Linked DNA regions of Homo sapiens. The protein of the gene in region 1 purifies or fractionates together with the protein of each later gene. This does not show direct contact. Each region holds a gene or a part of one and is shown on either strand. Other genes may lie near its edges.

Region 1 (3,652 bases):
CCGTCCTCCTACCTTTGCCTCCTGAGTAGCTGGAACTACAGGCACACACCAGTACACCTGGCTAATTTTTTTTTATGTTTTGTAGAGACAGGGTCTTGCTACGTTGCCCGGACTGGTCTCAAACTCCTGACCTCAAGTGATTTTCCCGACTCAGCCTCCCAAAGCACTGGGATTGCAGATGTGAGAAACCGTGCCCAGTCAATTTTTATTTTAAAATAAGTGATGCATATGGGATTTAAAGTTTTAAAAAGTCAAGTAGTTTATAGTAAAAGGTTTATAATAAAAGAATAGCAGTTGTTTTTACTTCAACATCCCAGATTTCTGCTGTTTAGGGCACCTACTTTCAATCTCTACATATTGCTTTCATGTTTCTAAACTACCTTGCTTTGACCACTATTTTTTGAGTTATGGGTATCAGGCATCATATGCTAATTTCTTACCATGGTGACAAAAGTTTAGAATGCCCCTCCCCAACCCCCTTTATCTCCAACCTCTTGACAGTTCTATCATGTTTTTGTTTAGGTTTTTGTTTTTGAGGCAGGATCTTGCTGTGTTGCCCAGGCTGGTCGTGAACTCCCGGGCTCAATCAGTCCTCCCACCTCAGCATTGGGAGTAGCTAGGACTACATGCTTGCACACCTGTGTCTGGCCTATTATGATGTTTTCTGAGTCCAGTATCAATACTAAGAATATTATGACCACACATTGCTAGTAGCACACCATCATCCCTGTACCTTGTTTCTTGAACAACACAGTTGTGCAAGCTTTCTGGGTAGCTCTGGCTCATTTTCTCCCAAATATTCCAACATCTCATATGCCAGTCGTGTATAGTTCTGTGTTCAAGCACAGTCTGTCTTTTCAGAGTCCTTTATGCTGCTGTTCCAGTTGGGGCAGGTGGCTCTCCTGGGCCTTTGTGCAGCTGTCATCTTGACTCTTCACTTTGTCACCATTTTCCCGTGGTGAGACCCATGGCTTCCCAGTCTCCTGGCCGTCCTGGGTAGGAGAGGGAACTGAAGGCTTTAACTACTCTATACTCAGACTTTGAACCAATCCCTGAGTTTTCACTCTCCCACAACATAATTTGTAGTTTCCTCCCTCTAGCCAAGTCATCCAGCCCCTTTCCCCTCTCTTCCAAAATGAGTTGAGACTCCTCATCTCTCATTGCCTTTTCTTTCTAAGACAGTGGCCTTTACTGTCGTTTTCATAGTGTTTGGGGAAGAAGTCTGCCTTGTTCAGCTGCAGAAAGCAAACGAGAATTTTTCATGAATGATGGCTGCTGGTGCATTAGGTTACCACTGGCTTTGATGAATTCTCCCACTCATGAGGTTTTGACTGTTTTAGATTTTATCCTGTCTGTGTATCCCTCTGCACATTTGTTCTGTTAATACTGGGCTGAAAAAAAATACATATTAAAAAATACGTATTTTTACATATATACATAAATATACATATAATTATTAAAATTTTTTTCTATTTATTTTGCCATTAGGCACTTTTTTTTTTTTTTTTTGAGATGGAGTCTCACTGTGTCGCCCAGGCTGGAGTGCAGTGACACGAGCTCGGCTCACTGCAACCTCTACCTCCCAGGTCCAAGTGATTCTTGTGCCTCAGCCTCCTGAGTATCTGGGATCACACCTAGCTAACTTTTGTATTTTTAATAGAGATGGGATTTCACTGTGTTGGACAGGCTGGTCTCAAACTGCTGACCTCAACCCATTTGCCTGCCTCAGCCTCCCAAAGTGCTGGGGTTACAGGCATGAGCCACTGCGCCCAGTCCATCAAGCACTTCATTTTATTTATTTATTTTTTGAGATGGAGTCTTGCTCTGTCGCCCAGGTTGGAGTGCAGTGATGCAATCTCGGCTCACTGCAACCTCCGCCTCCCATGTTCAAGTGATTCTCCTGCCTCAGCCTCCTGAGTAGCTGGGATTACAGGCGTGCGCCACCACGCCTGGCTAATTTTTTGTATTTTTAGTAGAGACAGGGTTTCACCATGTTGGTCAAGCTGGTCTCGAACTCCTGACCTCAGGTGATCTGGCCGCCTCGGCCTCCCAAAGTGTTAAGCACTTTACATCAAACAAATTAATGTATCTGATCAGAAATCAAAGAAAAATCAGGGCATTAGGTATGTCATTCACACTTGGGTGTTGTTCCATTTGAAAGTGAGGAACCCCATTAACCTCAGTATCTCAAGCAGTTGTCCGAGTATAGTGTGTGTTTTGGGGCGTGTGAAAGCGCTTTCGACGGCGTCATTCATTAAAGGCTCCTTCTCCAGCATGGCTGCGCCTGTTCATTTCCATAGATTAGGATTTCCCCAAGTTTCCTTCTGTTTTGTCAACTTCATTTTTCAAGATGCTTATAAAAGAAAGGAAGCTTCATGCAGATTTTATTTGCTTGCCTGATTATGCTTTTCATGGTATTGTTCTTGTTAGAAAAATCAATCTGATGATTTCCCTTCAAAATTTCATCACTTGGCCTATAAACATAGCTGGCTAACTCCTATATATTACAGTTTTGTTTTTTGTGTTTTTGAGTCAGGTTCTCGTTCTGTCGCCCAGGCTGGAGTGGAGTGGCAAGCAGCTGGAACTATAGGCATGTGTCACCACCCCTGACCAATTTAAAAAAAAGTGTTTTGTAGAGATGGGATCTTGCTGCGTTGCCCAGGCTGGTCACAAACTCCTGGCTGCAAACGATCCTCCCGCCTCAGCCTCCCAAAGTGCTGGGTTTACAGGCGTGAGCCATCACACCCAGCCTGTTACCATTTACACACTGCTGGTAAGGGTTCTCTCCAAGCTAGACATCAACTTTTAGGCTCATTTACATTTCTATAGTTAAGAGAAATAACTCTGGGAAACATCATCAATCACCATTGTCTTTTTCTGTGCAAGCTGCAATTCTATCAATGCCTAGTAAACCCACTCTACTTTTTTTACAGGAAGCCCCTTCTTCACAGGACATCCTGGTGTTCCTCACTGGGCAGGAGGAGATCGAAGCCATGAGCAAGACGTGCCGAGACATTGCAAAGCACCTCCCAGACGGCTGCCCTGCGATGCTGGTCCTTCCTCTGTACGCCTCCCTGCCCTATGCACAGCAGCTCCGAGTCTTCCAAGGGGCCCCAAAGGTGAGTGCACCACCTCTTCTGTCCAGCCCTATTCTGGGCACCCAGACGGATCCACCAGCGAGGTCTGTACCTGTTACCAGGCTCCAGATAAGGTGTATGGGATGGGATACCCAGGTGCCAGATCAGCGCACTGAGGAGGTGCAGGAATAAAATGCGCGGTGACACACGCAGCGCTCCTGTGACAGGAGCAGGGAGACAGTTGTTGGGATGAGGGAGAGTATAAACCAAAGCTGCAAGGTAAACGAGTGACTTCTAAGGACCAGCATAAATTGCATTTGTCCATAGTGCCATTTCTTGTGTGCCTTTGCCGTGCCAGGCACTGTGCTAGCATTTATATCCACTGTCTGTCATCCTCGTGGGAACCGGCAAGGCAGGTTATGATCCCATGGGGATCCTGAGGCCCCAAGAAGGGAAGTAACAATTGCTCAAGGGGGCGCATAGTAAGTCACTGGCAGGGCCACGATTCCAACCCACATCTACTTGCTTCTGATTCCTGTGCTTGTTCCACTGCATCTCATTGCCTCAAATTGACC
Region 2 (3,652 bases), on another chromosome or scaffold:
CAAATGAGTGTATGAAACACATGCTTGGAAGAGATACAGGAAACAGGCTCAAATTCTGGATCACAACCTGCATAGCACCATCTGTGATCATGCAAAATTTTAATAAATTATAATATGACCTAGTCTTAAATTCACAGAATCAGATAACAAATGAACTGCCCTTATAGAACTGGAAGTTACAATTATAGAAATATGTTACAAAGTAGAACAAACTGTTAATTCTGGCTTTCCTCTTCTAAGCCATGCAATATTAGCTTCTGTATGTCAGACAAAAATTCTTCTTAGGCTTTCAGATAAAAGCAACCCCCTACTCCTCTCAACCTCAGGAAGATGAATTATTTGGGATGAAGGTAGCACTTCATGGGAGAAATTATTCTTTACAGCTTTTTATATAGGACCCTTGGAGCTTTGTGTATACCACCCTATCACAGCCTTACTGCTGACATTGCTATAGTGACTTCTTGCTCTCTGTGCTTGACCATTAAAGATGCAAAACATTTAGGAAAACAAAATAATTTCCCTATGAACAAGATGCAGGAAGCTGTGCTCCTGCTGCATTGATAACCCAGTGGATGTGCTTACAGAGCACCAGAGACCACAGGAAAGCATAAAGCACATCAGTGTATTTATTAGGAATTATACTTTCAGTTCATACTCTGGACATTTTTAAATCTTAGCCTGTTCACTCAATCCATTGCTCTTTCACTGCCTTATTTGGAGTATGCGCAGGTACTTGCAAACTAATTTTAAAACTAACCTACCTCAAAGTGAGTATGGGGAACAGATGTGTGAAGGATATTCTAAAGATAAGTGACTTGTATGTTACCTGTTTTTATTTTTAACTCTATGGCACTGCTTCTTTTCATTTAAATCTAAAAACTAGACGGTGAACTTTTTTGTAGATTGGGCCTGTGTTCAGATACTACCTGGCACATAGTAAACATTCAGTCATTGTTTGATTAGGCATTGAGCATTTGCCATATTTGGCTTTTTATATCCCATGAATCCTTATGCCTTGCTCATCTTCTATTCCCCGCCTAACCTCCTCTTCTCATAGAATGTGTGTAAGAACTGCAGCGGAACCTTCTGTGATGCCTGTTCAACAAATGAACTGCCTCTTCCTTCAAGTATCAAGCTTGAGCGAGTTTGCAATCCCTGTCACAAGCATCTGATGAAGCAATATTCTACCAGCCCATCATAAGACTGGAGGCCAAGACCTGGACCAAAACGTTTATGCAGGCTCCTCTGTACCTGTGTTTTAGCTGTCAGGATCTCATAGAGCCCAGTTCTTAGAGTCAACTAAAGAGTTGATAGGAATTTACTAGGTCCAGGGAGAAAAGGCAGTGGTTGGGGTTACTGGAAATTTTGCTCATTTTCTCTAATGACTGTATGAATAAAAGTGAACTTACTTGAGCCTTTCTCTTCTAAATCTAAACAACCTGATATTGAAGGTTTGCTTTATAGCATATCTTTGGAAAGGCAACTCATTTTTATGATTAGTGATACTGGGGTGGATTTAATAGGAGAGAGAATCCAGGCAGATAAGAATAAAAAGGAAAATGATCATCTCCTTCTATAGCATTTGCAGATTCAAGGGGGAGAGGTAGATGCTGAGATCAAAATGACAGTTGTTACTTATTTTTCCAGGTGCTGTTAGTATAAACATTGTTTCCTCTTCACCCCTGCTAACTACCTCTTTAAAGTATTTCTACCAAACTGTGAACCCAATCTCAGGGAAAAGAAATTAAAAAGTAATATAAATTCTGCATATATTAAAAACAATATTGTAATATGTTATAATTTCAGGACCAGAATTTTCTGGTCTTTACCTACAAGGGTTTTCATTATCAAAAAAAAGAACATTTGTTTTTCTACTTTATGACTTCAAAGTAAATAACTGCCCTTTTCAGAATCTCCTTCCACAAAACAAGCCAACTCTTCCCCATTCCCTCCATCTTCCTTTCCAAGTCATAATGGAAATTGTAAGGAGTTTTAAAAATAGGGTTTGGCTTTTGCAAATAGAAGATATTGATTAAAGCAAAGTCAAATATAGAGTAAAATAAGTTTAATTTGTTTTCTTAAGACAGGGTCTTGCTCTGTTGCACAAGCTGGAGGGCAGTAGTGCAATCACAGCTCACTGAATCCCTGTTCTCCCGGGCCTCAAGCAATCTTCCCACCTTAGCCTCCCAAGTAGCTGGGACTGGCTTTTTTTTTTTTTTTTTGGCCGGGGAGGGGGTCTCATTGGTTGCTCAGCCTGGTCTCAAACTCCTGGGCTTAAGCAGTCCTCCCACCTTGACTTCCACAGTGCCGAGATTACAGGCATGAGCCACCACACCTGGCCAAGTTTAATTTGTTCATGGCTGAGAACAGTTAGCTCGGAATACTTACATTGTTTTTTGAATAAGGAATTCCTTATTCTGAGTGAGTCACGAATGAGAGCTGATAGATGCTTTCTTGAAAAGGGCAATACAGTCATCCCTTGGTATCCATGGGGGATTGGTTCCAGGAACCCAACTTGATATCAGAATCCATGGGTGCTCAAGTCCCATTATAGAGAATGGGTTATATGGTATTTGCATATAACCTACATACATCCTCCTGTGTACTTTAAATCATCTGAAGATGATTACTTATACCTAATAAAATACCTACACATCACTTCATTTGCATGGATTCAACATAGTGCTTGGTGTTCAGTAAATTCAAGTTTTGCTTTTTTGGAACTTTGTGGAATTTTTCTTTTTCTGAATATTTTTGATTGGCAGTTGGTTGAAGCCATGGATGCAGAACCCATGGATATGGAGGGCTGACTGTACTTACTTACATATCTATCTATCTTTGAGTAACAAACTCTTTGGGGGAAAAGAGGGAAGTGTATTGAGCAAGAGAAGGCAAAAAACATTACATAATATTTTGATTCTGTTACGTGTGTCTATAGATTGTTTCATTCTAATCAAGACCTAAGAAGGTATGATTCTGTGACTGATTTAGAATTCTGGGGTGGAAATATCCTGGAACCATGTTTTTTAATAAATTCTGTCTCTTGGAAAGAGTTAACAACAGCCTGGGAAAGAGTTGTTATTCCAAAAGTCAGCCTGTTACTTGGTGAAGCTGAAGTTTAAGAGTTCTGGGGAAAAATAAAATCTAGTAATTCCAGCCTAGTTTGTTGATTGATGATTGTCTTTTTTTTTACCCTAAATAACAACATTTCTTTTTTGAATCTTCACTCTCATTTTTTGGCCACCTACATGAGCTAGCACTCTTTTAGGTGCTATACATGATGTGGGGCACAAAAATGGACTACAGGAGTGTTGCCCTAAATTAGAAAGTTATTTTATAACTAATTTTAAATTAATTTGAAAAGATCTTTGTAACACAATATAAGGAGGAACAGTCACTTGATACTTTACTTAGAATTACACATAAATATTAGCCTTAAAAAAATTTAGGCTGGGCGCGGTGGCTCACATCTGTAATCCCAGCACTTTGGGAGGCCAAGGCAGGCAGATCACGTGAGGTCAGGAGTTCGAGACCAACCCGGCCAATGTGGTGAAGCCCCATCTCCACTAAAATAAATTAACTAACTAACTAAATAAATAAGTAAATGCAAAAATTAGCCAGGTGTGGTGGTGTGCACCTGTAATCCCAGCTA
Region 3 (3,652 bases), on another chromosome or scaffold:
AATCTGATTCTTCCTTCTGAGGGTTAAACGTCACAGGTTCTGTAGCGCTGACAGCCTCGGCTGGCTGTTTATTGGCATCCAGAATCTCGGGAAAGCCGGAGGACTGCAGGAGCACCATGGAGGCTCTCGAGGGCTGCCCTGCAGAGCTGAGACACAGAGACTCCTCAGGTAGCCTCCCGGGAAAGGGGGGACCCATTGATGCACCTCCCTGTGGAAACCCTGGGGTTCACAAGGTCCAACAGTCTGACGGCACAGCACGTGACTGGTTCCATCCCACCCAGACCCACACCTCACCTCCTGGTCTGGGTTCCCACAACAATAGGGGCATGCAAAGGCGTGAACGGCAGCTCCTGTAACTGTTCGGCAATGGATGTTTCCAGGACCAGGGAGGTCTGGCTCAGGTCGGCTTCCAGGTGGGAGATACCGGCCTCCAACGGGAACTCCTGCTGAACAAAACGAGGGCTTCCAAGTGAGGCCACCAAGGACCCCAACCCGTAACAACCAACGGTGCTCAGATCTAAGGGGATTCATCGATTAATTGCCTCTGGAGGGTTGCCAGCTCTAGCAAATACAAAAGGTTCAATTACACTTGAATTTCAGGTAAACAACAAATGATTTTAGTATAAGTATGGTCCCTACGATATTTGGGATATACTTACACTAAAAAATTATTTGTTGTGTACCTGAGGTTCAAATTTAACTGGGCATCCTATATTTCACGTGGCAATCCAATGTGTGAGTTGAGAAGCGGTGAGGAGGGAATCCTAATTTTATGAGCAGGTCAGGACCGTGGGAGATACCTGACACCTGAGATGGTAAATTCATATCAAAGCATGTTTATAGAACAGAAAGATGAAGCTTCCTCAATACTCCAAGATAAACTGTGGCACCGAGCCCCTGGCTGGCGTGTTTGGACAGTCTCTTGTCCCCACAGCCCCTGAAACTTCTTGTCATTCACTCGTATTCCACCTCCACTCCCCTCCAAGGCCGAGGCAGGCCTCTCAGAGAGGAGCTGGCTTGGGAGTTGGGAATGTGCTCTCTCAAGCTTCATTCCCAAGCTTTCTGTTTCAGCCCAGAGGAAACCAGGTCACCCTCACACCATGTCTCATGCGCCAATAATAAAAAGCTAGGCAAGCTCTTCACAAACACATGAGCCCCAGAGATGCTTTAGATAAAGCAGCAGAGACTCATGGTGCTAGGAGTGTTTTCAAACAAGGAATTAAAAGAAACTATTTTTCCTCAACATAATTCCAGTTAAGACCAAAGATGCAGTTTGCAGGTGAACCAGCCGACTTTGGAAACCAAACTCCATAGGAATTCCCCAAGGCCAGTGGCAATGCCAGTCTTAGCCAGGAGCACACCCTGAAGCCAGGATGGCGGGCTCCACTCACCTCCTTTAGCTGCTGATAGCAAGGAGGGTCCTGGGGTGCTGGGTGCCTGTCTCAGCCTGTCTATAGATATAGCCACACCTTCCTTTTACTTTCACGTAGAGACCTAGGGGTAGCTTAACTTTGTTTTCATGGGTAGAGCACAATCTGAGTCAAGCGCTGTGGTATGAAGAACTCATGGGCCACATTCTTCTTTGGTCTCCAAGACAGAATGGTGACAACTGTCTGAGGCCTCAGAGTAAGCAATGCCCCACTCCCACCCACATCCCAGGTAACCCGCCAAGGTCTCTGCCACCTAACTAAGGACAGGCACAGTGCAAAAACCCAAAATGAGGAGCTGTGGAGCCATTCCTTGGTGGAAGGCAAGGCGGCAGGTGGGCGGCACTTACTGCCTGGGCCGGGGAGGCCTGAGAGCCATGGGGTAGCTGTGAAGTAGGCCTGGCCAAGCAGTGCTGAGTCGGGGACCGCGGGGAGGCCGCCAGCTGGGAAATTGACAACTGGAAGGAAAGAGAGCACAGGTGAGGGGCTCAGAAGCTTGCCAGTCCGTCCACAAAGCTCCCAACATGCACTGGCCACACCGGGGAACGGGGTAGCCCTGGATCCAGCCACGGAAGGGAGTGATGCCTGCAGCCTCCTGGCCAGGGCAGCTCTGGAACCTGGGACCGCTTCTCAAGTTCCTTTATTTAATGACAGAGAGGTGATTCCATGATCTCCCCCAGATCATAATATCTGAATAAGAATATTATTAACAAGGAAAACAAGCAAGAAAGGAGAAAGCATCTCAAGCTACAGGGGCGGCCTGGCCTCTGCCTCTCTGTCCCTTGCCAGCACTGGACTGAGCACCTCCAAGGCCCTGCCAGTTCTAGCCGCCTGCGTTCCTATCGAACAAACCTCCCTGTTAAGGCAATGACCATCTTGATGGCCAGCGCGGGCTCTGGAGACAGCTGTGGATAGAGTGCCCGTGCCAACGTGGCATTACCGTGGAGTGCCCGCACCAATGTGGCATTACTGTGTAGCCTCAGGCAAGTCAGCTAACCTCTTTTTGCCTCAGTCTCCTCACCTGTAAAATGGGGGTAATAATAGTACCTAAACTGCAGGACTGTTAGGAGAATTAAATGACAATCCTGGCTAGGGTTTGGCATAGTACCTGGCACACGGTGAGCCTTCTATAAATACTGCAGATATTTGGAAATGAGTGCGGCTTAAAACACTGATGCGGAGGGCTGGGGGCCCACGCACTACTGAAGACACAGATCTCAAACCCGGACTCTAACTCCAGTACACACAGCCAGCACCTGAGACATTCACTGTCAGCAATGATGGCTGGCCCACACCAGGTGCTGGCAGAGAGGCCCCAATGTATGAAGAGGCACTGAGGAATGAATGGGGGGCGGGGTGCATGAAGCATCCCCAGGGGACCCTGGCAGCATCTTCAGGGAGCAGAGGAGATCTTTGGGGCCTACCCAGCTTCCCTCAGACCCTATACGGTATCGTGACCACTCGGGGTCACGTGGAAACTGCTCCAGGGAAAATGCCAGGTTGGGCCAGCAGGGAAGCCTGGGAGGCCGTCCACAGACTTGCGCCTTTAGGTGAATCCAGTATTCTTCACTCCTGATCCAGTTTCCCACTGCAGATGACACACTAAAGCTGCTTCCTTGGAGACAGCCATGGATACTGAATTAGTCAACTTTTCTAGAAAGTCAATTTCCAGGATGATGCTGGCAGACAAAGTCATCAGCAGGAACAAGCCACATCTGACCTCACTGCAAATCACATAGCTAAGGCCAGCCTTGGAGCCACAGGTGAGCGCCACGGGTGTCTCGGGACTCCAGAACGGCAGCCAAGCAGGAGCTCAGCTCAGACCGCTGGCGGGCAACGGCCCAGCGGGAAGGCGCCTCTCCTCCCACTCAGGAAGTTCCAGCGCCACGGGGATCTGTGCGGTCGGACGTGCAACTGCCAGCAGCTTGTGGTTCTCAGCAGTGCCACTGTCTCCACCAGCATCGGCTGCTTGGCCGACAGGGCCAGGGGACACCAATAGCTGCCAGGCACCGCTACTGGTGGAGTTAGTCTGGGAGAGCAAAGAGGGTGAGGACCACACCTCGATGTCTCTCAGAAAAAGCAAAGGCCGTCCAGTCCTGAGAGTTGCCACCATGAGATGCAGCTGCCAGGGAGATGTGGAGACGCCCCATACAGCAGCATAGGGGTTGCAAGCAGCAGCCCCACTAAAAGCCCGCACTGGGAGTCAGAACATCAGGGACAGGCTG

The links.
Region 2: the proteins of DHX33 (region 1) and RUFY3 purify together in Homo sapiens (affinity purification with mass spectrometry; one large-scale study listed by BioGRID and IntAct). This does not show direct contact.
Region 3: the proteins of DHX33 (region 1) and NPHP4 purify together in Homo sapiens (co-immunoprecipitation; one large-scale study listed by IntAct). This does not show direct contact.

The regions. Positions count from the first base shown.
Region 1 is NC_000017.11:5,455,464-5,459,115, reverse strand, and holds part of DHX33 (ATP-dependent RNA helicase DHX33), read left to right. Parts: intron 1-2,933; coding exon 2,934-3,119; intron 3,120-3,652. UniProt on the Homo sapiens protein: Implicated in nucleolar organization, ribosome biogenesis, protein synthesis and cytoplasmic dsRNA sensing. Stimulates RNA polymerase I transcription of the 47S precursor rRNA.
Region 2 is NC_000004.12:70,805,459-70,809,110, forward strand, and holds the end of RUFY3 (protein RUFY3), read left to right. Parts: intron 1-1,057; coding exon 1,058-1,201; 3' UTR 1,202-3,161; downstream 3,162-3,652. UniProt on the Homo sapiens protein: ARL8 effector that promotes the coupling of endolysosomes to dynein-dynactin for retrograde transport along microtubules. Acts by binding both GTP-bound ARL8 and dynein-dynactin.
Region 3 is NC_000001.11:5,905,338-5,908,989, forward strand, and holds part of NPHP4 (nephrocystin-4), read right to left. Parts: intron 1,886-3,652; coding exon 1,778-1,885; intron 447-1,777; coding exon 295-446; intron 147-294; coding exon 1-146. UniProt on the Homo sapiens protein: Involved in the organization of apical junctions; the function is proposed to implicate a NPHP1-4-8 module. Does not seem to be strictly required for ciliogenesis. Required for building functional cilia.